Regions from separate parts of the Homo sapiens genome. Here all the other regions are linked to region 2. Evidence: fine-mapped expression QTL. A gene starts in region 2. Each other region holds a variant in brackets. All regions are shown on one strand. Distances are between the middles of the regions. Region 1 overlaps TRPC4AP (transient receptor potential cation channel subfamily C member 4 associated protein). Region 2 holds the start of MMP24OS (MMP24 opposite strand). Region 3 overlaps MMP24-AS1-EDEM2 (MMP24-AS1-EDEM2 readthrough).

Region 1 (8,151 bases), 270 kb before region 2:
GGGATGGAGGGAAAGGCCCCTCACTTCTGGGAGAACCCCCTTGGATGAACACAGCGGCCAATGAGCAAACAGAACCAGAGGAGCTACAGGAAAATGAGGCAGAGGGGCAGGCTTGGGGGAAGGCAGCATTCTCTGGTACCCACCACCCCTGCCCAGGGCTCAGAAGCCTTTGCCTGGGTCCAAAGGCCAGGGACAAGGGAGGCTTGGCTCACAGATGGGGGGTGGGGGTCACCCATATCTTCCTCCCCACTCTGGGACTGACTGACAGCCAAGAAACCGGCAGGAGCTCACACAGAGCTAATGCTAAATGTCCTCTTACCTCTGGGTGGCCCTGGGCCCCAGGGTTCTGAAGGAAAGGTGGGCATGGTACCCTGTCCTCATTATGGGGACTGAGGCTCTCCATGACCTAGGGCCCTCAGACCCAGGGGGACCAAGGGCTTCTAGGACTTCCCTCCCACCAAGCCTGTACCCAAAGACCTGGGGCAGGCAGAGAGCAGCAGGGAGGAACGGGAACAGGGCAGGGCGTGTGGCATCGTACCCACGCTCACCCACACTGGCCCAGCAGCCTCCCGAGGCCTGGCCCAAGGTCACTCCTCAGTGAAGTCCCTGTCTATGTCCATGTAGGGCTCCTCAATGTAGCTAACGAGAGCAGAGGGTGACTGCCGGTCCGGGTTCAACAGGATGGACACTGTCTCCTTCCAGTATGAGAAGCTGATGCAGGAGCTCTGGGCAAAGAGGGAGGGGCTGGGGGGCGCCTGGAGGACCCAGGTCAAGCCCAGCACCGGGACACCCCTCTGAGAGGCCCTGGGTCCGCGGCCCACCCATCACCCCCTTGAGGGTGGGGCACTCACGTTCTCTAGGCAGGTGCTGTCCTTGTCCTTGTGCAGGTAGTGCTGCTGCCAGAAGCGCAGCAGGTTGTGGAAGTTGTTGAGCAGGAAGCCGGGGTACTTCTTGCTGTGCTCCATCCGCTGCAGCAGCCGCAGGTACAGGGGCAGCCGCTCTTTCCGTCGGGCCAGCATCAGGATCACCAGGCTGGTGTTGAGGCAGCTGACGTTCTCCTGCAAGGCCACAGGCCCACAGGGTCAGGGGCTGGTGGGAGCCCCAGTGGCCCCTGGTGAACCTGGGTAGCCATCAGGCAGGGAGGAGAGTGGCCCCAGGCCTCGGGCCACCCACAGAGCTCTCCCTGCACAGAGGTGAGATAGGACTGGGGGAAGGGGGCCCCCAGCAGCCCCAGTTTCCTGACTGAGCACCTTCCTCTTCCCCACGCCCACCTCCCACCCCACCTGAGGCAACAACACCTGTCCCTGTCCAGACCTGGGCTCAAGCATCACTCCTTCCGGAAGGTCCGTCCCAGGCAGGGCTGGGTGCGTGTGTTGGGGCGGTTATCCCGCTTCAGAAGTGCCATTCAGCACTAGCCTGCGCGCCTCGGTGGGGAAAGAGTTCTGCCCCACTCACCATGCACTCCCACCTGGTGCTTCACCTCAGAACGGAACCAAAGACCACCTCTGAGAGGTGCTAAGATCACCCTCACTCTAGAAAAGAGGGGCAGGAGGCTCAGAGAAGGGAAGGCTGCATGACTATTCAGTGAGGGAGTTGGGCAGCCTCAGGTCCGATTCCAAAGCCCAGCAGGGCAGAAGGTGTGAGGGACGTGGACATGGGGGAGGCGGGGAGAGCACTGGCCTGCAAGTCAGCCTGTGACCTGAGGGCACTTGCGAGCCCTCCTTCCTTAGGCCCTGTCTGTACAATGGGACACTGATTCCTCCTGAGCACAGTCCTCAGAAGAGCTGGGTCTCCAGAGACGCACTTCTGGAGTGGGGGACAGAAACCTGCTGGGCACCAGGACAAAGGAAGTGGTTTCCAATCGACCTTCCCTGCTGTGTGTCTGCCGGGGCCTCTCACCTGGGTCAGCGTCTGCACGTGGATGATGTTGATGAGGCGGAAGAGGAAGGACATCTGCGTGGGCACCTGGGATATGTAGGCGAGCAGGCGGCATTCAGACAGTACCTCGGCAACTGTGGAGGGAGGCAGGGGTGCAGCAGGTCAGGCTTAGGCCCAGTGGCTGGGTCGCCCAGGCCTTTCGTGGAGCCCCGCTTGGGTCCTGACTCTGAAGCTAGGAGCTCATCATCAAAACAGCTTCAACGAAAGCTGACTGTGGCAGAAAGAAGGACCTCCAGCTGTCCTGCTACCAGGCAAAGCCATGTTCTCAGAGTGCCCAGGAGCACCCCACCTCATCCTCCAGAACCAAGCTCAGGGCAGCTCTCCCTCAGCCCTCCCCAGACTGGCTCCAGACCCGTGCCCTCCATATCACACACAGAAGAGTTCCCTCCACAGGAAGATGGATCCATGACGCTGCATTAAGAAAAACAACGCAAAAGTTCCACTCCTTCTGCAGAGGTCCTAGCGCAACTGGTTTTCCACACCAGCTCTCAGGTGAGTCCGGCCCAGTGCTGAGACCACAAGGCACAGGTTCTGCTCCGTCCACTAGTGTCGGAGCAACTGCTTCCCGCACAACTGGGAGGCAGGGCAATAACCGAAGGTACCAAAATCTGTGTGGCTGTTCCCCTGAAACAGACCCTCTGGGGCAGAAAAAGGAAGCAAACGGCTAAATTACCAACAACCGGGATACTTCTTGCTATCAATGACAGTGACCGTGACAAGGAACAAGTGCCTGACTTTTTGGGGGTGTGGGGGGGTCACAAACCCTCAGGAGAATCTGCTGGATGCCACAAGCCCTCTCCTAGGAAAAAAAGGAAACGCGTGCGCATACACATGGAAGTGCGTTAGCAAGTCCAGGAGGGTTCAGATGCCTGCTGCACCACAGGGCACCTGCGATGCCACGCACAGCACACTGAGGACGAGGGGGCCAACTCATCGTGCCAGGCAATACCAGCCCAGAAGAGGAAGGTCTTTTTCTGGTTTTCTTTGCATCTTGCTAGCAACAATGGATTTTCACCTTATTAAAGTGTTGAACAAGGCAGCAAAGCCAATTGCCCTGGAAGCCGCCACCTTGAGGCCGGCCACGTGGGCATCTGGTGCAGCTCCCTCAGTCATTCTTGTCTCCCTGCTGGAGACAGGGTGTCTGATGCCAGCATTCTTACCCTGCATGACTTGCCTTGACAGCCTGCCTTTCATGTACCTTTCATATCCACCTGGTTTTCAAATCGGTCCAGGGACAGAGTGACACAGCGCACCAGCATGTTGGAGTCCACCAGGGAGCTGTTGATCTGCTTCAGGAATACCTGGAACTATACAGAAACCAAGCTCACAGCAGGCAGTGGGCTGCTGGCCAGGTATGGCCATGGCCCGGGGGGATAGTCACTACAAGGGGCATCAGCGACCTCTACCAGCCCCACTGCTTCAGATAGGAAGACAGAGGCTCAGATAAGCTGAGGGACCTCCCCTCACCACCCAGGTACTAAGAGGCACTCCCCGGAATTCAGCACAGATCCGACACTCTCTCCAGTGGTTTTACGCTCAAGGGTGCTGGATTCCTTTAATTTTTACTTTTAATTTTACTTCAGCTAGCCTGAGCTGGGTTTCTGTCACACACACTCGGTGAGCCTAACACACCAGGCCCAGTCCCTCCCTACAGCGGCTCCCACCGTGGCACCCACCATGCTGCGTCACGGCAGGCGCACAAGCCACCCATTCCCACCCTCACTCCCTACCCACAAGCAGCCCCGGTTTTCATCCCTGCATTCCCAGGGTCTAGCACAAAGCCAGACAGAGCAGGTTCCAATGAATGTTTGCCAAAGACTGCCCAGACTCCCCCGTCGTCTCTAACGTAAAACCTGTGCCTAAAGCCTGGCAGACCAGGACTCCAGGTGAACTTCTGGACAACCCAGCACACTCCACAGAGCCCTGGGTTAACTTTACCTTTGCATCGGTGTTGATATATTTATTGAATCTCTTGAATGCATCAACGTTGAACTTCATCAGCTCCCCCAGGAGGTCAAAGTAACTCTGGAGCACATCCCTTGACTTACACTCGCTGTCCACAATGCAGTAAAGGATGTGCTGGGTGAGGAGGGACAGGGTGAAGGTGTCAACGTGGCTGCCCCCACCAGGGCCTGGCATGGAGCTCAGACCATGCATTGGCTTTGAGCAAGCATCCTGGGGATGGAACTGGCAACACTGTCTAGATTCTTGTCTGAGGATGCTGGTGGCTCCAAGGACAGGACCAGGCCTGACAGACCTCACCAGGAGGTGGAGCAGACTGGGAATGCAGCACAATCTCTCCCCTGCCCAGGGCGTACAGCTGAAGCCTGTGACCTGCTCTGTGGTCACCAAGATGGCCGGGGTGCTCAGCTCCTAGGTGAGGGGAGCTGTCATCACCAGGTCTAAAACACAGGCCACTGCCTAAGCACTGAGGTCATTCAAGTAAATGAAGGACAGAATTTAAAAGCAAAGGACACATTTTGACCCCATGGTTTGTCTTTGTGTTTATGAACGAAATTGTTTAAATAGAGTTTACACCAAAATACTGAGTTTTCATCAAGAGAATAAAGCCAATTTACTCCTTTATAAAGTTTTCTACATTTTCTTGAAGTTACATTGATTTGGATCAATTCTTTTCCACATGGATTTTATAATTCGTGGGTCAGTTTCTTGTCCATATGAAAAAATCTGAAAGACCAATTATAACTTTGGCCATTCTGCTCTAAGTTTTACTTTTTCTGAAGACCATTATTCAATAAAGGAAAATTAACTTTTAGTACAAAATATCTTCAGGGTCAAAATGCCTTGCTGGGTAACCAAACTGTCACCCTCCTGCATGGCCTGGCCACCCTCTAAACCTGTCACCCCGTAAGCACCCATGGGGAACCCACAGTTGGAAACCCAGGGCAAAATCTAAGGCAGCCTGCACAGGCATTTGGAAGTCACGAGATCTGCTCTGCTCCTGATGAACTGTTTGGGGCTCAGGACAGGACACAGCAA[C/T]GCGTGGGCTGGGGGGAGACGGAACCCAAGACACTGGCTGCTCCAGATCATACCTCCAAGAGGCCTCGCTTCAGCAGGAACATCTGGTCTGCATAGGAGGTGGTCCCTCGGAGGAAACTCTCCACAGCCCGAGCTTGCCAAAACCTGCGACCCAAATACTGGCTCAGGTGGCTAAGGCTGCCCTCTTCCGGCCCATGTTCAGTTCTCCAAGGGGTTGGGAGATGTTTGTTGCCTTTTCATGTACTCAACATTTACTGAACATCTACCAAGCATCAGGCTTCATCCTGGGCCTGGGGACACAGCAGTGCCCCCATCCTCACAGAGAGCCAGCTCAGTGGAGAAGTCTTCTATCTGGGTCTGTCTGGAAGGGGCTGTGTCACAGAAAGGGTAACATCTGGGATCGAAGGGCTGGCTCCTGCGAGCCCCCGTGAAACATACTCTAGGCCTTGCCCTTTCACAAGAATGGGAGGACGTGCAATTGAGGGGCCAGGAATGTGTGTGGGAAGCGGACGAACACATGCAGACAGGCCACTGGGCTCACAGACGATGGGCTGGCCTAGGGAAGTAGTGGTTGATGCTGACCGAGGGACCCAGAGGGCACAGCGGGTATCCACGACAGGGAGTTTGGACAAGGCACTGAAGTGACAAAGGCCCATGTGGGCATGAAGCCTCCTGACAGCTCACGCCCGGCCCTGATGGAACTCTACCTGTCCACTGACTTCAAGACTCATCTTAGATGTATCTAAGGACCTCAGAGAAGGTCTCCCTGTATTCACCCAGCCCCCAGCCCTAGCAGCGGAAGAGGCTTTCCTTTGCTGCTATAGCTCCTGGGCCAACCCTGGCTCCATTCCTTCCCACACTGCATTGAAACAGCACAGCTCTAGGGAATTCATGGCAGGGCCCGTATCCTAGTTCTCTCCCACCCATAAGGCACCAGCACAGAACAGGTGCTTGGTGAATGCTCGGTCACTGTGGGCTGCAGAAGAAGCTCTCACATACCTGTCGAGTCAAAACTACACAAGATGGCAGTCAAACCACCTCTCCCCAACAGTAATTGTGCTTCAGGAGGCATGGACGCTGGTGACTAAAGGAGGTATTCCTAACCTCCTGAGAAACACCTGGCTCTGCAGCCCCGCAGAATCGGCAGGTACTTTTCCCCAGACTCACCTGAAAGACGACTCTGCTGGCTCCTTCTTCATGACCTGCAGCAGACGAGTTAATAAGCCCCTCTTCCCATCACACACCAAACTCCTGAAATAGAAGAGAGATATTGGTGACAGATCTGAGAGGCTGACAGGGGCCCTGGGGATGGGTCATTCTGCTGGCTTAGGCGGTGAAAAACCATGGGGACATTTCCAAGTCTGCAGGATGCCTTCCTGCTCCAACTGGGTCCAGAGCCCCGGAGACCCCTGCAGCCACAGAATTAAACTGCCAAGTGCATTCCCACCACATCTCAGGCCAGCTTTCCTTCCCAGGCCAGAAACATATCCAGAATCAGACATGGCTTAGAACTGCCAGAGGAGAGCTGTTTATACCAAAAGTGTGTTGAAACAGGTCATGCCAGTCTGCCAGATGGGGAAAGACTCTGCCAATAGGGTGAGGCCCAGCGTACTCCGTGCCTGAGGTTCACTTCCAGCTGGCCTTGGGCAAGTGTCCACAACTCCAAGCCTCAGCTTCCCAGTCTATGAAGCAAAGGCAGGAGATGAGGAAATGACTCTGGCCCCGTCATGGGGGAAGGAAGACGGCCAGGCACGCAGGGGTCTGGGCCCTTCAAACAGAGCAGCTCTGCTGTGATCCACTGCAGACATCAGGGCAGGACTGGGTACAATTTTATTTGAATGAAGAGTTCTGCTACCTTAGAAAAAAAAGATTGGGAGGCCAGGAGAGGTGGTTCACACCTGTAATCCCTGGACTTTGGGAGGCTCACTTGAGGCCAGGAGTTCGAGACCAGCCTGGGCAACATAGTGAGACCCCATCTCTACAAAAAAAAAGTAAAAACACTAGCTGGGAATGGTGGCGCACACCTGTAGTCCCAGCTACTCGGGCGGCTGAGGCAGGAGAATCACTTGAGCTCAGAAGTTTGTGGCTGCAGTGAGCTATAACACCACTGCTCTGCAGCCTGAGAGAAAGAGCAAGACCTTGTGTCTAAAAAACAAAACAAAACAAACAAACAAAAAAGGTTGGGAAATCATGGCTCTTGTTGGATAAAGTCCACTGTATTCTGACGCCTGTGAGACTAGCCCCCCACTGCCTGGCTCCAGGTGAGGCAAACCTAACCCAGGTAATGCAACCTAACACTTGGCAGCAGGTAAGAGGCTTCTGTCTGTCCTGCTTGGCTGCAGATGCCACCAGGCAAGAAAGGAGCACATAAGCAAAGGGGCTGAATGCACGAGACAAGGCGGTGGGGCAGTGCGGAGCACACATGACTTCTGGCAGGTGACCTCTCTGAGGCTCACCTCATCTGTCAAGTGCAGGTACTGATGGGGCTCCCCTCCTAGGGCTGCTGTGAGGCTCCAATGAGAAAATGCAGGTGACATGAATACAATGCCTGGCACACAGGAGCCCTCAGGACACTGTAGCTGCATGTGAGAGAGGACACGCGTGCATACCTGGATGTGCTCACCGGTGAGCCCCCGGGGAACGTGGGCAGCCGGGATGGGCTGAGGGAAAAGCTGCACCCCTGCACTCACCTGTCGGTGTTGAGGACAGCTTCCACCTCAGGGATGTTGGCCTTGAGAGAGATGGCACTGAGTTCATTCAGCTCCTGGTTGTTGAGTAACAAGTACTTGTTCCTGAAACAAAATGGGTTGGAGGAGGTAAAGGACAGGAACTGGGGCTGCTGGGTCAGCACCAGGCTAGTGTAGGGAGTCTCCTGCCCACTTCCTGTGGACAGAATCTGAGAAGCCACCAGGCACTTTCCTCTAGCACCTCTCACTCCAGCCAGCACCTGCAGGAGGGAACTCTGGGCTCTCAGGCAGTGGAATCTCTCCCTGGCCCCACCCCCATCCCCGACCCCTGCCTGCCACATTCATCGACAAGGCCCCTTCCCTCAGCAGCTCTGGGCCTTTCTCTTTGCCTACATTTCCACTTGTTTTCTCAAAGGCACCAACACCTCAACAGGTCCAATCACACTCAAGCCTGGCCCTGCTGCAGCAGTCCCACCAAGCACCACGGTCACACATCACACAGAGGCCTGGTTAACTGTGACACTTC
Region 2 (8,172 bases):
AAGGAGCGGCGGCTGCCCCAGGACGACGTGGACATCATGGTGACCATCAACGATGTGCCGGGCTCCGTGAACGCCGTGGCCGTGGTCATCCCCTGCATCCTGTCCCTCTGCATCCTGGTGCTGGTCTACACCATCTTCCAGTTCAAGAACAAGACAGGCCCTCAGCCTGTCACCTACTATAAGCGGCCAGTCCAGGAATGGGTGTGAGCAGCCCAGAGCCCTCTCTATCCACTTGGTCTGGCCAGCCAGGCCCTTCCTCACCAGGGTCTGAGGGGCAGCTCTGGCCAGTGCTCACCAGGGCCAGCAGGGCCCTAGGCTGGGGTCGTACAGCTGAAGTGGTGGGTGCATTGGCCTAGGCTGAGCGTGGGGCAGGGAATTATGGGGGCTGTGCCCCAGGGTGGGTGTCTGGCACCCAGCTGCCAGCCTTCTGTCCTGGGCAAACTACTCCCTACTTAAGGGAATAGGCCAGGCTCCATCCGGAGGCAGGGACCATGCCAGGAGGAGCCCCTGTGGTCACGGCATCCTGTGGTGTCCATGAGGTACCACAGCTCCACTCCTGGCTGGAACCCAGCACCCTCTGTGGGAAGCCAGCACTAGCTCTCATCCCCCATCCGGGAGATACCACCAGTCCTGGTCCCCTTTTGCCAACACCTGCTGGTCAGATGTCCCCCTACCCCCACCCCACTGTCCTCCAAGGCTACAGGACCCCTGCTTCTGACACAGTGAGCAACAAGCCTGGGTTTCCCTGCTGGCAGACGGCAGATCCCTCAGGAAACCTGCTCCACTTGTCAGGGTCTCTTCGGAGACCCAGGATTTAGGGTCACATGCTGCAGGCAGGGCTGTGGCCCAGCTGGGTCTGACAAGGACCCAGCTGTCACATCGTGAATATTTAAATGTCCTGTCACTACTGTCCCATTTTGCAAAGGCTGCTTGAGGCTTTAGGTGAACTAGAGGTGACTGTCTTGGTGATGAGGCCAGCATAGCGGCCCTCCCCCAGGCGACAAGGACCAAGGTGCTGCTAAGGCCACTCTAGCGCCCAGACACCCCAGTAGCTGAGCTCTGCTCCTATGGCTACAGAGCTGGGGCAGAAGCTGACCCCATTTCTGGAGGAAGATCCGAGTTTGTGACCGTCCTCCACTCCCCTCTATTGTCACTGTCCCCAGCTTTGCTCCAGTCTGTCACTTGCAGCCTGGAGCTCAGCCTCACCAGTTAGGTGAGGCAGAGATGGCTGCAGGGCCAACACTGGCAGAGCCTGGGAGTCCTTCGGAAGGGGACCAGGGCGTCTGAAGTGCTCAGTGCCCCCACTACTCTGAGGCCGACTCCAGCTACTCTGAGGCCGACTCAATCTCTCGGCTGGAAGCAGTGTTTTCCCAGAGCTTGGCCCTTGCTGACCTCGCTCACTGGGCCCATCTTCCCACACTGCTCTTAGAAGGACACCCCTACCGGTAGCAGCCCCAAGCTGAGGGGGCTCCCTTTTTGACCTTCACTGGCCCGCCCTTCACTGTCTCCAGCAGGAGTTCCTAGGGCTTGGCCTGCCTTGCTCCACAGTACGGCGGAGGCAGCCCTGCTTGTCACTGAGGAGCCCTAGACAAGGCCAATGGGTTCATCAATGCCCACTGGCTCTCTGCCAAAGCCAAAAAGGTGTCAGGCAGTCTCCAGCGTGCTGGCCGGGTCTCGGATGCCACCCCTGCTCACTGAGCCTGCATGGGCCTTGCCCCCGACCCTGTGGTCTCTGGGATTGGGGTCGGCTTACCCTGTAGCACAGACAGGGACTCCTGCTGCCCTGGGAGCTGTCTCAAGCAAAATCTCTTGTCCCAGAGGTGCCCATGTGGGTCCGCTGTGTCCCCTGTCATCATCCTTGTTTTTTCTCATTTTGGCCAAGGGCAGGCTCCCTGGGACAGGCAGGGAACAACTGCGGAGATATTAGTGATTCATAGGTTTGTACAGTGTTTTATACTTTGCAAAGCACTTTATTAGCTCACACCTGTCCACTCACATGAAACTCGTGTTAGGCCCTGGGAGGCCGACGGTAACTCTCACCGTGCCCTCAGATGAAGCACAGAGAGGTTGTTACTTGCCCGGGCCATCCAGTGGGCTGGCTGGGTCTTGTGTCCCCATCTGTGGACCCCTCTAGGGTCTGAGATGAGATGAGAAGTGTCTCCTGTATCCACCTCTTCCTGGCCTCCCTTCCCCCACTTCCTGGTCCCTGTCCACTCCTCAGGTTGGTGCTCTCACTTCTTGAAAGCTCTAGGCACCCCCGCCTCCCGCCAGGCTCCCCATTGGCTCCTGGCAGGCCAGCTGAGAATGAACAGGAGATGGAGGCAGGCAGCCCAGGCTGCAGAGGTGAGGGATGTGGGGCCAGGCCCAGAGGGCTCAGCCTAGAGGCTTCCAATCTCAGATTCTCCTGCCTGTGGTCATCTGTTTGTCCATCACCCCAGGACAGGGCAGACAGAGGGGCAAAGCACTGGGGGCCCCAGAGCCTAGCTTCCCCTCAGCCTGGGGGACATCACAGCATTTCAGTGTCAGTCACATTTTAAACTGATCAGCCTTTGTATAATGTTTTTTAAATCATTTCTAAATAAAACAGAAATACAGAGTGTGTCATTTCCCTGGGATGAGGGAACAAAGATCAGGTTCCAAGAGTAACCTTAGGACGCTCTGGGAAGAGAACCGGGTCCTTTGGGGTGTCTGGGAGCTGCCCACCCATCTCCTCTGCCAGACCGGCGGTCAGATAGCCTCCCTCTACAACAGGCTGGCCCTGGGGGCCCAGGGTTATTGGGGTTCCAGGAACACAGCCTGATGATGCCTCCTTACGATCCAGGATGGAGAGCAGCCCCCCCAGGAGTATGGGGAGGGTCACTGTGGCACGGGCTTCTCCATGACCTGGGACATGACCTGGGACACATAGTCAAGAGCACGGTTATCAGCAATACAGATATTAATAAAAGGCAGACGAAGTCAGGAGGTCAGCAACTTTGCGGGCTTACCAGGAGGCCTGTCCTGCCTCTGGAAGCCAGCGACAGAGAGGGATGCCCCCGACCCAGCCAGCCGGAGAAAGGGATGGGGTGGTCACGAAGGTCTGAGCTGGGTCTGGGTGTAGGCTGGGAAGCAGGCTGGGGTGTAGACTGCGAAGGCGGCCCTGCCGGGACTTCTTTCCAGTCCCCGGCGACCTCTTCGAATTCTCTGCTATCTCTGGGGAGCCTCGGGTGGGAGGGGGTGTAAGAGACGCAGGGACGTGGGGAGAGGAGACAAGGCAGGCAAGAACCACAGGGGACGGCGGACAGACGGGCGACATCCTGCGGAGGACGCCGTCAGTACCAGGAAGTGCAGGCGATGAGGAAGCGCACGTCGTCCAGCGGCCCCCACGGGCTGGGCTCGGGCTGGGGCTGGGGCTGGGGCTGGGGCTGGGGCTGGGGCGGATGCCGGGGCTGTTCCGGGCCCTCCGGCGCCGCAGGCTGGGGCTGGGGCTGGGGCTGGGTTTGCGCAGGCTCCGGGGCGCCGCGGCCGCCGCTTAGCTGAGCCCCCATGGTCTGCAAGAAGAGAAGCCCTTTAAGGTCTGGGTCGCCGGGACACCCCGCTAGGGCCCCGCCCCGGCTCTGCCCTCACCTCTCGCAGCCAGACCCGCGGGTCTCCCGGAACCCACCTCGGCGTCGGGAGGAGCTGGCGCCGTGACGCCACCACCGCGTACCGACCTCACCCTCCGTGCGTTGGAGCGGAAAGAAGGGACTCGACCCTGTGCTTCGGGGCGGGGCTCCGCGACCGTCCCCCGCCAATCCCGCCCCAGCGCCTCAAGGCCCCGCCCCGCGCAAGGGGACGGAATGCACCCCAACAGCCTCCAAGACGCCCAGGCCAGGAGGACGCTGGGAACCCGCTGCCCCGCCCCACGCCCACCCAGGAAAAGACCTGCAACCTCCATCCACCTTAGTCAAAGAATGCCCCGAAGCCAGATGCCCCAGAGCTCTCACAGGGGACTTGCCCAGCTCAGGGGAAAATCGGAACGGACTCTCTGCCTTTCAAGGCCAGAGAAGACCGGCGCAGAAGTCGGGTGAAAACTGTGAGAACTAGACCGGGCGCCGTGGCTCACGCCTGTAATCCCAACACTTTGGGAGGCCGAGGCGGTGGGTCGCTTGAGTTCAGGAGTATAAACCAGCCTGGGCAACACAGTGACTTCGTTTCTACAAAAAAATAAACGAGGCGAGAGGATCGCTTGAGCCCAACAGGTCAAGGCTACAGTGAGCCATCCTTGCGTCACAACACTCCAGCCTGGGTGACAGAGGGAGACACTGCCTCAAAAAGAAAAAAGAAAAAAGGAGAACTGTAGTGGAGAGTGTTTCTTGCCCCAGGATGAAGCCTCACATCCTGATGGTAGAGGAGAAGGGAATGGCGTGTGTGGAGGTGGTGAACTGGGTTGGGTGTGTGTTGTGTTCATCCCACCCTATCTTCCCAGAATGCTGGAACAACTGGAGAGTGCAGGGATTGTACACAGGCTGAGGGCCCCAAACATCACATTCAGAATGGCCCGGAGGGAACTGCACTTTAATGGGGTGGCACAGGACAGCAGAACCCTCAGCCAGCAGCCACAGGGCCTGCCAGCCAGCACAACAGAGCAGGTTTTTGCAGTAATGATAGATCCAGGCGATAAGCACAGGTGGAAAAGGGTTGGGTGCCCAGCCCCTCAGTCCCAGTGAGCTCTCTGCCACCTCCCTGCCAGCATCCGGTACAGATTGGGCGGAATGTGGAGAAGGTTGGCCACAGTCCAGAGCCAGGAGCCCATGGAACAACTTGGAAGGTGACTCAGGTGAGGCTGAAGAGAAAGGAAAGCGCACGGTCAGTAGCTGTTTCACAGAGCCCACCTCACTCTCAAGTGAGGTGCCTGCCTCAGCCCTCATCCCGGGACCAGCTCTGACAAGCTGCTCAAGCAGCTACTGCTCTAGTATCCTAGCCCTGAAAAACCACAAAGATGAGGATTAGCAGATGCTCAAGAAATATTTTTTGAATATGCTGGCTCTTATCTGCTCAGCAGTGTACAGATATGCTCTCACACTCGAGAAGCTACCAGAACAAACTGGTAGGCTCCCATTCTAGATGACATCTTTTCCCCATACTCTCAAAATGCAAGTTAACCCCCAACCCTGAGCAGAAGAAAGGAGAGGCCCCAGGTACCTGTCAATGAGGGAATCCCGCATGCTGGTGGCAATGGTGCTAGGCTGGGCTTCATTCAGCTTGAAGACACTCTCCACCACTGACAGCTCTGTGCTGGTTGTGTCCAGGCCACAGAAGGCACACCAGTCATTCACCACCATCCCAGCAGCAATCACCTCACTGCCTCGGTTCACAGTCCCCGCCTGCCAAGGGATGGGCTCAATGTGAGTCACGGCACCAAATTCTCTCCCTCCTCAATGAAGACTCTCCCCAAACCCTGCTCCTCCCTGACCTGCAGCCCCAGTCCCAAACTGTGGCAGGTAATGACCCAGACTCCCAAACACTAGGCAAAAGGATCTGCCTCGGGAGACGGGGTTCAGAGGACAGGAATGCTTACCACAAGGGGGACTTGAAGAAGAGAGGACAGCTCATCCTGGTCTTCAATTGAAGTCTTGGGATGCACCAGCCCTCCCTGATTGCTGAAGACACAGTAGCTTCCTACTAGCACCTGGTCGGCCACTGTCTGTCTGAAGACTTCCACCTTGAGCACATCTGCCAGAATTTCTTCTGTCTCCTGTCAATCAAAGATATTGTGTTCAGGGCTCAGAACTTACAGCCCCAGAACCAAGGTTCTCCATGCCCAGAAGCATCCAGGCCTTGGCTCCCTGAGCCCCTCATTTCTCCTCTGTACCTCATATGAAAGCCTCACCCAGAGAAAGGAGGAAGTACAGCTTAGAGCAGAGTCAAGGGCAGCTGTGAAGCCCCTAATATTCATGCATGCCCTGAACAGCTGGAGGCTGGTCTCAATATCACTTCTTTCCCCTCTCACCCACAGTCAAAAGTTCAACAGTCAATCACCTATCCTGGCCCAGGATGCAGGACTGGATGGTTCAATCTCCCCAATCATGAAGGATTCATACCCTCCCCAGCTTCTTTCTGACACTTGATAAGGCCTCTGTTATCACTATTCCAATGAGTACCTGAAACTCAAGAGCCCATATAGAAAAACCACAGGAGAGACCCCTAATTGCTGCCTGTTGGGAAAGAACAGTGGCTAACCACTGACTAGGATGGCCCTGTGACTCTTGGGTCAAGTTGGGCTGCCTCACCCTGTCCAAGTCTGGGTGGACCAAGGCCACGTAGTCATTGCAGGTGGTGACATTGCCCAAGGCTGAGAGCCGCTCCTCCACCCGCCTAATCTGCACTGTGTCTGGGAGGCTGTTGCGAATGTGTTGCAGCTCCTGGTCGGTGGTATTGTTGGGTACCAGGAGACCGTGCCTGTTCCCTGGAGAAACCCAAATTAGAGGGTGAATACACAAGATGCCTGCTGAGCCCTAGGGGCTGAGGATACCACTCAGCCCAGCCCAATCAGCTTTCCCAGGAAAGCTTTAGGCCCAGAGCCCAGCCCTCCAACCCACTGATCTGGAAAACACCCAGGGCAGGCCAGAGACCACCCAGGAATCCCAATAAATCCTGCCTACTTCACCATCACCAACTGGGAGGGAAGCTGAGCTCTTGGCATTAGCTGTATATTTTGCTACTTAAAAACTGAGCTGCCGGGCGTGTTGGCTCACGCCTGTAATCCCAGCACTTTGGGAGGCTGAGGTGGGCAGATCACAAGGTCAGGAGATCGAGATCGAGATCATCCTGGCTAACACGGTGAAACCCCGTCTCTACTAAAAATACAAAAAATTAGCCAGGCGTGGTGGCGGGCGCCTGTAGTCCCAGCTACTCGGGAGGCTGAGGCAGGAGAATGGCGTGAACCCGGGAGGCGGAGCTTGCAGTGAGCCGAGATCGCGCCACTGCACTCCAACCTGGGTGACAGAGCGAAACTCCGTCTCCAAAAAAAAAAAACAAAAAAACAAAAAAAACTGAGCTAACACTACACACATAGCAGAATGGCTAGATTATTATTTTTTAAGGCAGAGTCTCACTCTGTCACCCAGGCTGGAGCGCAGTGGTGCGATCTCAGCTCACTGCAACTTCTGCATCCTGGGTTCAGGTGATTCTCCTGCTTCGGCCTCCTGAGTAGCTGGAATTACAAGTGCGTGCCACCACACCTGGCTAACTTTTTGTGATTTTGTAGAGATGGGGTCTCACTATGTTGGCCAGGCTGGTCTCGAACTCCTAACCTCAGGTGATCCGCCCACCTCGACCTCCCAAAGTGCTACGATTACAGGTGTGAGCCACTGCCCCCAGCCAGAATGACTAAAATTTTTACAAGTCATCAATTCCAAGTGTTGGCAAAGATATATGGAGCAACTGAACTCTCATACTGAGACAGGAGTGTAAGTTGGTCAATCACTTTAGATAATTATCTGGCATCATCTGCAACTACTACTAAATAGTCACATAACCTGTGACTCTGCCATGCCACTCTTAGGTATCATATACCCAGTAGAAATATGTACATGTGTTCACTAAAAAAACATAGCAGCACTATTACTTTTTTTTTTTTTTTTGAGACGGAGTCTTGTTCTGTTGCCCAGGCTGGAGTGCAGTGGCACAATCTCGGCTCACTGCAAGTTCTACCTCCCCGGTTCACACCATTCTCCTGCCTCAACCTCCCAAGTAGCTGGGACTACAGGCACCCGCCACCACACCTGGCTAATTTTTTTGTATTTTTAGTAGACACGGGGTTTCACCGTGTTAACCAGGATGGTCTCGATCTCCCGACCTCGTGATCCGCCCGCCTCGGCCTCCCAGAGTGCTGGGATTACAGGCGTGAGCCACCATGCCCGGCCAGCAGCACTATTCCTAACAGACCAAAGTGAAAACTGCCCAAATGCACTGTCGATGGAATGGATGAATACGTTGTGATATACTTACACAAAACACACCATACAGCAACAAGAATGAACAATCTACAAATACACGCCAATCAATTTCTGAATTCCAGGTCACTCCCATCATAAAATACACAAGGACTAAGCTAAAATCTCCCTTGTTGTCAGAACTTGCTTCAAGTCCTAAGGGCATGGTTAGAGATCAGAGTATTTTAACTGAATAGGAAAATACTTTGAGGTCACT
Region 3 (8,172 bases), 42 kb before region 2:
AGGTTCCCCAGTTGAGGTTCGGGAAGCCAGAGAATGCTTCAGGAAGAAGGTGGTATCTGAGATGAACCTTTGAGGGAGGAGAATGATGGAGAAGGGTGAGTGGGGCAGTCCAGGCAGAATAAAAAATATGAACCATGGCTCCACAAAAATGCATGGCATGTTTAGGAAACAGTGGATAATTTGATGTGCCTGAATCATCAAGTTACTTGCTGTTTCCAGTAAGAGTGTATAAGGAGAAGAGGCTGGAGAGGGAGACTGAGAGCAGATTGTGCATTTGGCTTTTGTCCAAAGGCTGAGGGGAGTCATTAAAGGTTTCTGAGCAGAGGAGCGACCTGCTCAGAGCCATGTTGAGGAAGTGGAGGGACTGGAGTTTGTTCCTGAGTTGTTCTGGCTGCTGGCTCCTGCCCTGAATGCTTTTAAGCTTTCTTAGCACAACTTAGGGGCGAGTACTCATTTTAGGGCTCAAGTGACCCGCCCACCTTGGCCTCCCAAAGGGCTTACAGGCATGAGCCCTGGCCTTGCCTGTTAGCAGTAATTTAAAGACTCAATTCTATGCCACAAACACTTACGAGGCATAAAGGGCACCAAAAGTACTTGGCCAGAAAGTCAGGAGTTGTTCTTTACTCCTTTCTCTCTTTATACATATGTATGTATAAAGATCATTTGAGGCCAGGAGTTCGAGACCAGCCTGGCCAACATGGTGAAACCCTATCTCTATTAAAAATACAAAAAAATTAGCTATGCATGGTGGTACATGCCTGTAGTTCCAGCTACTTGGGTGGCTGAGGCACAAGAATCACTTGAACCTGGGAGGCGGAGGTTACAGTGAGCCAGGATTGAACTACTGTACTCCAGCCAAAGCAAGACTCTGTATCAAAAATCAATCAATGAATCAATCAATCAGTCCACTCAGGAGTCAGTTATATCTGAAGCCTATATGGCAAAAACTAATGTTTGACAAAGCTGGCTGGTGATTTTCCAATATATATTGTTATTTTATGCCTTTCTGAATGACTGAAATATTGAATAATAAAAAAAATTAAAAACAAACCAAAATCTGATCACCTTACTCCCACCCTCACCTGGCTTAAAATGACTCTTAGGACAAAGATTATACTATTATTACTGTACTACTATCACTTCTTCCTTTTAGTTTTATTATGGAAAACTTTCAAATGCATATGAAAATGGAAAGAACAATATTATAAACTCCCTTGGACGCAGCACCCACAAGGATCACTTGAGTCCGGGAGTTTGAGACCAGCCTGTGCAACATGGCAAAACCCCATCTCTACAAAAAAATACAAAGAGTAGCTGGGTGTGGTGGCATGTGCCTGTAGTCACAGCTACTTGGGAGGCTGAGGCAGGAGGATTGCTTGAGCCCAGGAAGCTGAGGCTACAGTGGACAGAGATCACACCACTGCACTCAAGCCTGGGCCACAGCGCAAAACCCTGTCTAAAACAAAAACAAAAACATGCTTAATGAAGCCGATGAGGCCCTGCATGACTGAGTCCTTCCCATCTCTCTGACTTCCTTTTATACCACCCATTCTCCCCATTGGTCACTAGACTCCAGTCACCCTGCCCTTCCCTCTCTTTTTCTAATATACAGGCTCCTTCCCATTCAGGAATTCAGTAAGGTACTCTTTCCTGGAGTCTCATTCTCAGCCTTCACCTAGCCTCTTCTGTTCATTCACAGATGTCAGCTGAGATGTCATGTACTCAGGGAGGCCATCCCTGATATCACAGCCTATATCTCCTGCCACACACTTTTGTAGCTCCTGGTTCTTCTCTTTCATTCCACTTATCACCACTGTAATGAAATGTTTAGTATTTCCATGTCTATCTCTCCCACCGGCTGTAACTTCCATGAGGATGAGTTCAAAGGGGACTACAGGCATGTAAACCATTATTTATAATGTAATACAAAATATGCTATAAATGAGGATACATATAATGCCATTGGGAGCACATAGAAAGTCCATTTAACCCCAGACAGATAGCCCTCCCTGATGAAGTGGCATTCAAGTTGCATTTTGAAGTAGCGCACCATGGGGAGGCCAGAGTACATATGGGAAAGGAGTTCTAGGGAGAGGGAATGAAATAAAGGCACAGAGGCAGGACTCTGCAGGATATGCTCAGGCAACACAATTAGGTCAGTATAGCTAGAGGTTGGGGTACTTGAGGTGAGCAATAAAGGGTAGAAGGTACAGGACAGAACATGAGGCTGGCAGAACCAGGCATGGTGGCTCATGCCTGTAATCCCAGCTTCTCAGGAGGCTGAGGCTGGAGGATTGCTTGAGACCAAGAGTTTGAGGTCATAGTGAGCTATGATTGTGCCACTGCACTCCAGCCTGAGCGACAGAGCAGAACCCCATCTCTACAAAAGAAAACAGGGCTGGAAAGGTGCATTGGCATCACATTGTAAGGGTTGTTGTGTCATGCTAAAGAATCTGGACTTTAAGACTGGCAATGAGGAACCAGAAGATCGGCTTCACAGTCAATCCACTTAGGCTAAAATAATGGAACTTTTTAACATGACTTACAGGTTATTTAGTTCAACCATCTCCCTGTTGCAGTTAAGAAACTGAGACTTGGTCTGGCTGTGGGGCTCACATCTGTAACCCTAGCACTTTGGGAGGCCAAGCTGGGAGGATCACTTGAGCCCAGGAGTTTGAGACCAGCCTGGGCAACATGGCGAAACCCTATCTCTACAAAAAATACAAAGATTAGCTGTGTATGGTGGCATACACCTACAGTCACAGCTACTTGGGAGACTGAGGCAGGAGGATTGCTTGAGCCCAAGAAGTTGAGGCTACAGAGAGCAGAGATTGTACCACTGCACTGCAGCCTGGGCCATAGAGTGAAACCCTGTCTTAAAAAAATTAGGCCAGGTGCAGTGGCTCACACTTGTAATCCCAGCACTTTGGGAGGCTGAGGTGGGTGGATCACCTGAGGTCAGAAGTTCGAGATCAGCCTGGCCAATAGGGTGAAACCCTGTCTTTACTAAAAAATACAAAGAATTAGCTGAGCGTGGTGGTGGGCACCTGTAATCCCAGCTACTTAGGAGGCTGAGGCAGGAGAATCACTTGAACCCGAGAGGCGGAGGTTGCAGTGAGCCAAAATCACGCCATTGCACTCCAGCCTGGGTGACAAGAGCAAGACTATGTCTCAAAAAAAAATTTTTTTTAATTTAAATTTTAAAAACCCTGAGGCCTGGCCACTGGTCTTTGTCTTCACTTTTCCCTTTTCTTAACTCACCAAGAAGTCGAGCCTCAGGGGACAGAAAATTAGCAGATCTGCGGGAGGGCCTTGGACAGGGTGAGGAAGACTAAGGCCTCTCCTTTTCCAGAGAGTGAATGAGACCATGGCCACACTCCTGACTGTGGGCAGAGGCCTCCCCAGAACTGCAAAACTTGGACATCCCAGTGCTGACCCAAAACCCCAAATGTGCCACCTCCCCGGGTATGGTGATCATCTGGCTTGTGGTGGCCTCCTGGGAGTGGGCCAAGGACATTCTGCAGAGCGCCAGGGAATTCCCGCTAGTGCACTTACCACCCACTCAAGAGCCGATGGCAGCCAACAGGCAATGCTGCGCCATTAAGGTGTTTGTCAAGAAGCTAAGCTGGGCATTGTGGGCGATCCTGAGGGCCCTTTTTAGATTGGCTGTAAGTGAAGAAAAAAAACAGCATTTGGAGGCAAACTAGAGCTAGTGCAGAGGGTGTAGCATGACAGAAAACCCTCTGAGAGGCAGAGATGCTTGCCTCCATGTCTGGCTTCCTTACCAACTTGCTCTGTGATTTTGAATAAGTCATTTCCCCTCCCGGAGTTTTCTTTCTCTCTTCTGCAAAACAAGTATGTTAAATTAGATGATCTCTGAGTATTGGTGACCAGTGCATTTTCTAGATACCTGAATGATTATGCCTTCAGTATGAAATTTTACGAATTAGTTATATAACTCAGGTGGGCTCAGCAGCAAGGCTGGGACCTCAGTTATATGGGTAGAGGAGGAAGCAGGGTTTTGGTGGGACAAGAAGTGGAGGGAACTGACACAGTGATAGGACCCATCCCTGAGGAGTCACCAGAAAGACCCAGTGATTTGGTCTGGCAGCAATAACCAAACGTGGTGGTCAAAGAGGAGAAATGACTTATTAAAAATCACCAAGGGCTGGGTGAGGTGGCTCACACCTGTAATCCCAGCACTTTGGGAGGCTGAGGTGAGTGGACCACCTAAGATCAGGAGTTCGAGACCAGCCTGACTAACATGGTGAAACCCTGTCTCTACTAAAAATACAAAAATTAGCCGGGCATGGTGGCGTGCACCTGTAATTCCAACTACTCGGGAGGCTGAGGCAGGAGAATCACTTGAACCCAGGAGGCAGAGGTTGCAGTGAGCCAAGATCGCACCACTGCACTCCAGCCTGTGCGACAGAGCGAGACACCATCTCAAAAAAAAAAAAAAAAAAAAAATCACTAAGAGCAAGTTGGTGGGGGAGCTGGGAATGGAGCCAAGCGTCTCTGCCTTTCAGCGGTTCTTTCCAAGGAGTATGGGAGCAGGAATAGACAATAACATTGTACGAACACTTACTATGTGCCAGAATCTGCTAAATGCTTCTTGCTGCTGTAACAAATTACCACAAACTTATTTCTAAAAGCAACACAGACTTGTTTTCTTACATTTCTGGAGGTCAGAAGTCCAAAATGGGTCTTGCTGGACTGAAATCAAGTTATTGGCAGGGCTGCATTCCTGCTGGAGTTTCT[AG/A]GAGAGGATCTCTTCCTTGCCTTTTCCAGTGTCTAGAGAATGCCCGCATCCCTTGGCTTGTGGCCCCTTCTAGCAGCAGCAGCACTGCTATAACCTATGTCTCCCAACACCTTCTCTGACTCAAACCCCCTGCCTTCCTCTTATAAGGATGCTTGTGATTTCATTAGACCCACCTGGATAATCCGGGCTAATCTCCCCCATCTGAAGATCCTTAACTTAATCATTTCTATAAAGTCTCTTTTACCACATAAGGCAACATATTCCCAGGTTTTGGGGATTAGGATGTGGCTGTCTTTGAAGGGTCATTATTTTACCTACCACAGTGCATCATCTCACTGAGTCCTCCTAACAGCCCTTCTTTAAACATCTGTTTAACAGATGAGGAATGTGATGCTTAGAGGAGTTAGGTCATTTGCCCAAGGGCACTCTGCTGGAAAGAGAAAAGTTAGGTAATATTTGGTATGTGGTGGCATCTTGGTCCCAAGTGAGCTGTCTTTTTAGATAGGACCCCATTCAGCTCCCAAGTGTATTGAGAATACAGTCTAACTCTGTGGAGGAGGCTGTCTAAGAACTAGGCAGGGAATCTGAGACCCTGAAAAATAGATTAGGGTCACAGCAGTCTCAGCTTAGAACTTGAATGCTAGAGAGAGAAACTGAGGGAAAAAACCCAGTTGTAAGCATTAAGCCAATATAGCAATGGATGAGGAAGAATGATCTTAGGCCACCATTCATGCCTGCATACAGTGATACAATAATATCTTAGTGTTGGGGGTTGAAGCTGCTGATGGACCATTTGCTCAAGTTAGGATTGACCAAGGAGATGGACAAGGTGAGGGACTCAGAGATAACTGCAGAGCCGAGGCACAGAGAGCAGAGGCTGGCTACTGAGCCAGTGCTAATAGAAGACTTTTCTAAATGGGTAACATAGTCAATTATAAGTGACACTGAACAACATGTCCATTTCGTCATGGTTATGGCAGGCCCTGTGCTAGCTGTTGGGGTGACAATGATGAGGAGGACATATATGCATTTTAGAGTCAGGAGGAAGCGACAGATATTTCAACATGTGGTTACAATACAGTGTGGTAAGAATTGCGATAAGGAAACAGATGGGGGACTGACAGGGATGTACAAGGACCTTCTGAAATAGATGTAAGAGGCCAAGGCTCCCCAAAGAGGGAGGAGGGGAGAGTGAACTGAATAGAAGGAACAATACGTGTAAGGGCCTGGGAGAACTGGAACTCACTGGAACACAGAGCACTAGGTGGGGAAAGATAAAAGGGGTTGCAGAGGGAGTCAGGGACCATATCATAAAGGCTCTTAACTGCAGAGATGGAAAGCTCTTAGAGCCACCTCAGGGCATTCACACTTACTGTTCCCTCATCCTGGAACACGCTTTCCTAGTAGCCACAGGGTCCACTCCCTCACCTCCTTCAGATCTCTTGCTCAAATGTCACCTGCTCAAAGAGATTGTCCCTGATCACCCTCCATAAATAGCTGTCCCACTCTCCATCTCTCCAACCGGCTCTATTCTTCACAGCACTTATTCCCACATGGTTCTTCCACTAGACCATAACTACTAGAAAGTAACTAGAATGCTGTTTTTGGTTTTTGTTTTTGTTTCTGTTTTAGACATGGTCTCATTCTGTCGCCCACAGCCCACTGCAGCCTCCAACTCCTGGGCTCAAGGATCTTCCTGCCACAGTCTCCAGAGCAGCTAGGACTACAGGGGTGTGTCACCACGCCTGGCTACTTTTTTCAATTTTTTTTTTTTTTTTTAGACAGAGTCTTGCTCTGTCGCCAGGCTGGGGTGCAGTGCCGTGATCTTGGCTCACTGCAACCTCCACCTCCTGGGGTCAAGCGATTCTCCTGCCTCAGCCTCCCGAGTAGCTAGGATTACAGGCGCACGCCCGGCTAATTTTTGTATTTTTAGTAGAGATGGGGTTTCACCGTGTTGGCCAGGATGGTCTCGATCTCTTGACCTCATGATCTGTCTGCCTCGGCCTCTCAAAGTGCTGAGATTACAGGCATGAGCCACCACGCCTGGCTGTTTTTCAATTTTTTTCTTTTTTTGTAGAGAGGTGTCTTGCTATGTTGGCCAGGCTGGGACTAGAATGTTTTTGTTTGCTCTTTTAGCCCTAGCACACAGTACTTGGTACATAGTAGGTCCTCAATAAATATTTATTGAATGAAGGGACAGAAATAAACATTTGATGTTTAGGAGGTAGGACCCATAGTTCTTTGGTAAAAGACTAGTGTGCTGTGGCTCACGCCTGTAATCCCAGCACTTTATGAGGCCAAGGCAGATGTATCACTTGAGCCTAGGAGTTCAAGACCAGCCCTAGCAACACAGCGAGACTTCGTCTCCACAAAAGATTAAAAAAGAAAAATTAGCCAGGCGTGGTGGCAAACGCCTGTAGTCCCAGCTACTCAGGAGGCTGAGGTGGGAGGATCACTTGAGCCCAGAAGTTCAAGGCTGCAGTGAGCCATGGCTGAGAGCGAGACCCTGTCTCAAAAAAAAACCAACCAAACAAACAAACAAAAAAGGAAACTGGATGTAGGCAGTGAAGGAGAGGGAAGAGTCACAGGTCATATGAGGCTGCTGGTTTGGACAACTGGGTAGCTGATGGTGCCATACCCTGACATAGCACAGGCATATTGAGCTCACTATTGTCTGAGATAAGGCATTGCACTCCAGGAGTGTGAGGTATAGGAAGTCCTGGGAGGGGGAAGGGCTGCCTGTCCAACACTCTGACCGTACGGAATATGCCTGAATTCTGCCATTTCTTAGCTTTAGGGCTCTGGATACTTGTAGGCACTGCCAGAGCTCTGCCTCTTGCCACCCCCATTGCCACTTCTAACCTCACCACCACCTCTGCTGTCTCCCGCTCTCTTCCCTCTTCTGTGCACATTTTGTTCTCCTTGGTATTCTCTGCTCTCTCCTTTCACTGCCACCACTCCGGGACTTCTCAGCTTTGGCTTCTCAGGAACCCAAATCCTGCCTTCTGGCCGGCAGACCAGTCACACCATATTGTCTATGATCTCTACGTCTTTGGCTCAGCCCAGCTATTTTGGTCTCTGCTTGCACTCTGAGATTTTTCTTACTTTCCTCTGGGTTTACACCTCTTTCTGCACTTAAAGGGTGACAGACATCTTAAGAGTTGGTTAACTGAGCTGTAAAGGTTAGACTTCTGACGTGGCTGATGATTGATTAATGGATCTAGGTGTAAAGAGATGAAAGCAAGGTCATTCTGTCTAAAAGTGAATGGGACTTTTTTCCTTCAGTGGGTTTTATCTTTTTTTTCAAATGGAACAATGGAACCTATTGCCTCATCAAGCAAGGAAGTCAAATCACAATAGATTGAATTTCAGCAAGTGTTTTTTGAAACCTCTAATAGATACCAGGAATT

Evidence for each region. PIP is the estimated chance that this variant, and not a neighbour inherited with it, causes the effect. A credible set is the group of variants that fine-mapping cannot tell apart.
Region 1: its variant is the best candidate, but not a certain one, in a credible set for the expression of MMP24OS in whole blood (TOPMed, PIP 0.90).
Region 3: its variant is the best candidate, but not a certain one, in a credible set for the expression of MMP24OS in whole blood (TOPMed, PIP 0.89).

Annotation. Positions count from the first base shown.
Region 1 is chr20:35,002,559-35,010,709 of GRCh38, forward strand. TRPC4AP (transient receptor potential cation channel subfamily C member 4 associated protein) reads right to left here. Exons shown (of 19, transcript NM_015638.3): 12 at 7,629-7,730; 13 at 6,106-6,189; 14 at 4,992-5,082; 15 at 3,877-4,017; 16 at 3,137-3,245; 17 at 1,900-2,012; 18 at 852-1,058; 19 at 1-725. The coding sequence ends at 588. Among named protein-coding and RNA genes, the nearest start is that of MIR499B, 16 kb to the left of the region's middle. The variant C/T (reference allele first, on the strand shown) is at 4,939.
Region 2 is chr20:35,274,403-35,282,574 of GRCh38, forward strand. It overlaps MMP24OS (MMP24 opposite strand), which reads right to left and starts at 3,720. Exons shown (of 2, transcript NM_001355003.2): 1 at 3,607-3,720; 2 at 1,950-3,530. The coding sequence starts at 3,527. The coding sequence ends at 3,312. It overlaps MMP24-AS1-EDEM2 (MMP24-AS1-EDEM2 readthrough), which reads right to left and starts at 3,720. Exons shown (of 15, transcript NM_001355008.2): 1 at 3,644-3,720. It overlaps MMP24 (matrix metallopeptidase 24), which reads left to right. Exons shown (of 9, transcript NM_006690.4): 9 at 1-2,596. The coding sequence ends at 207. It overlaps EIF6 (eukaryotic translation initiation factor 6), which reads right to left. Exons shown (of 7, transcript NM_002212.4): 4 at 6,252-6,427; 5 at 5,540-5,716; 6 at 5,164-5,345; 7 at 4,516-4,804. The coding sequence ends at 4,795. RefSeq lists enhancers at 1,048-1,655, 1,656-2,263, 2,850-2,949, 3,070-3,239 and silencers at 3,370-3,589, 3,680-3,899.
Region 3 is chr20:35,232,526-35,240,697 of GRCh38, forward strand. MMP24-AS1-EDEM2 (MMP24-AS1-EDEM2 readthrough) reads right to left here. Exons shown (of 15, transcript NM_001355008.2): 3 at 3,556-3,666. The region is part of intron 1 of MMP24 (matrix metallopeptidase 24); the gene reads left to right. Among named protein-coding and RNA genes, the nearest start is that of MMP24, 9.9 kb to the left of the region's middle. RefSeq lists an enhancer at 6,308-6,447. The variant AG/A (reference allele first, on the strand shown) is at 4,762.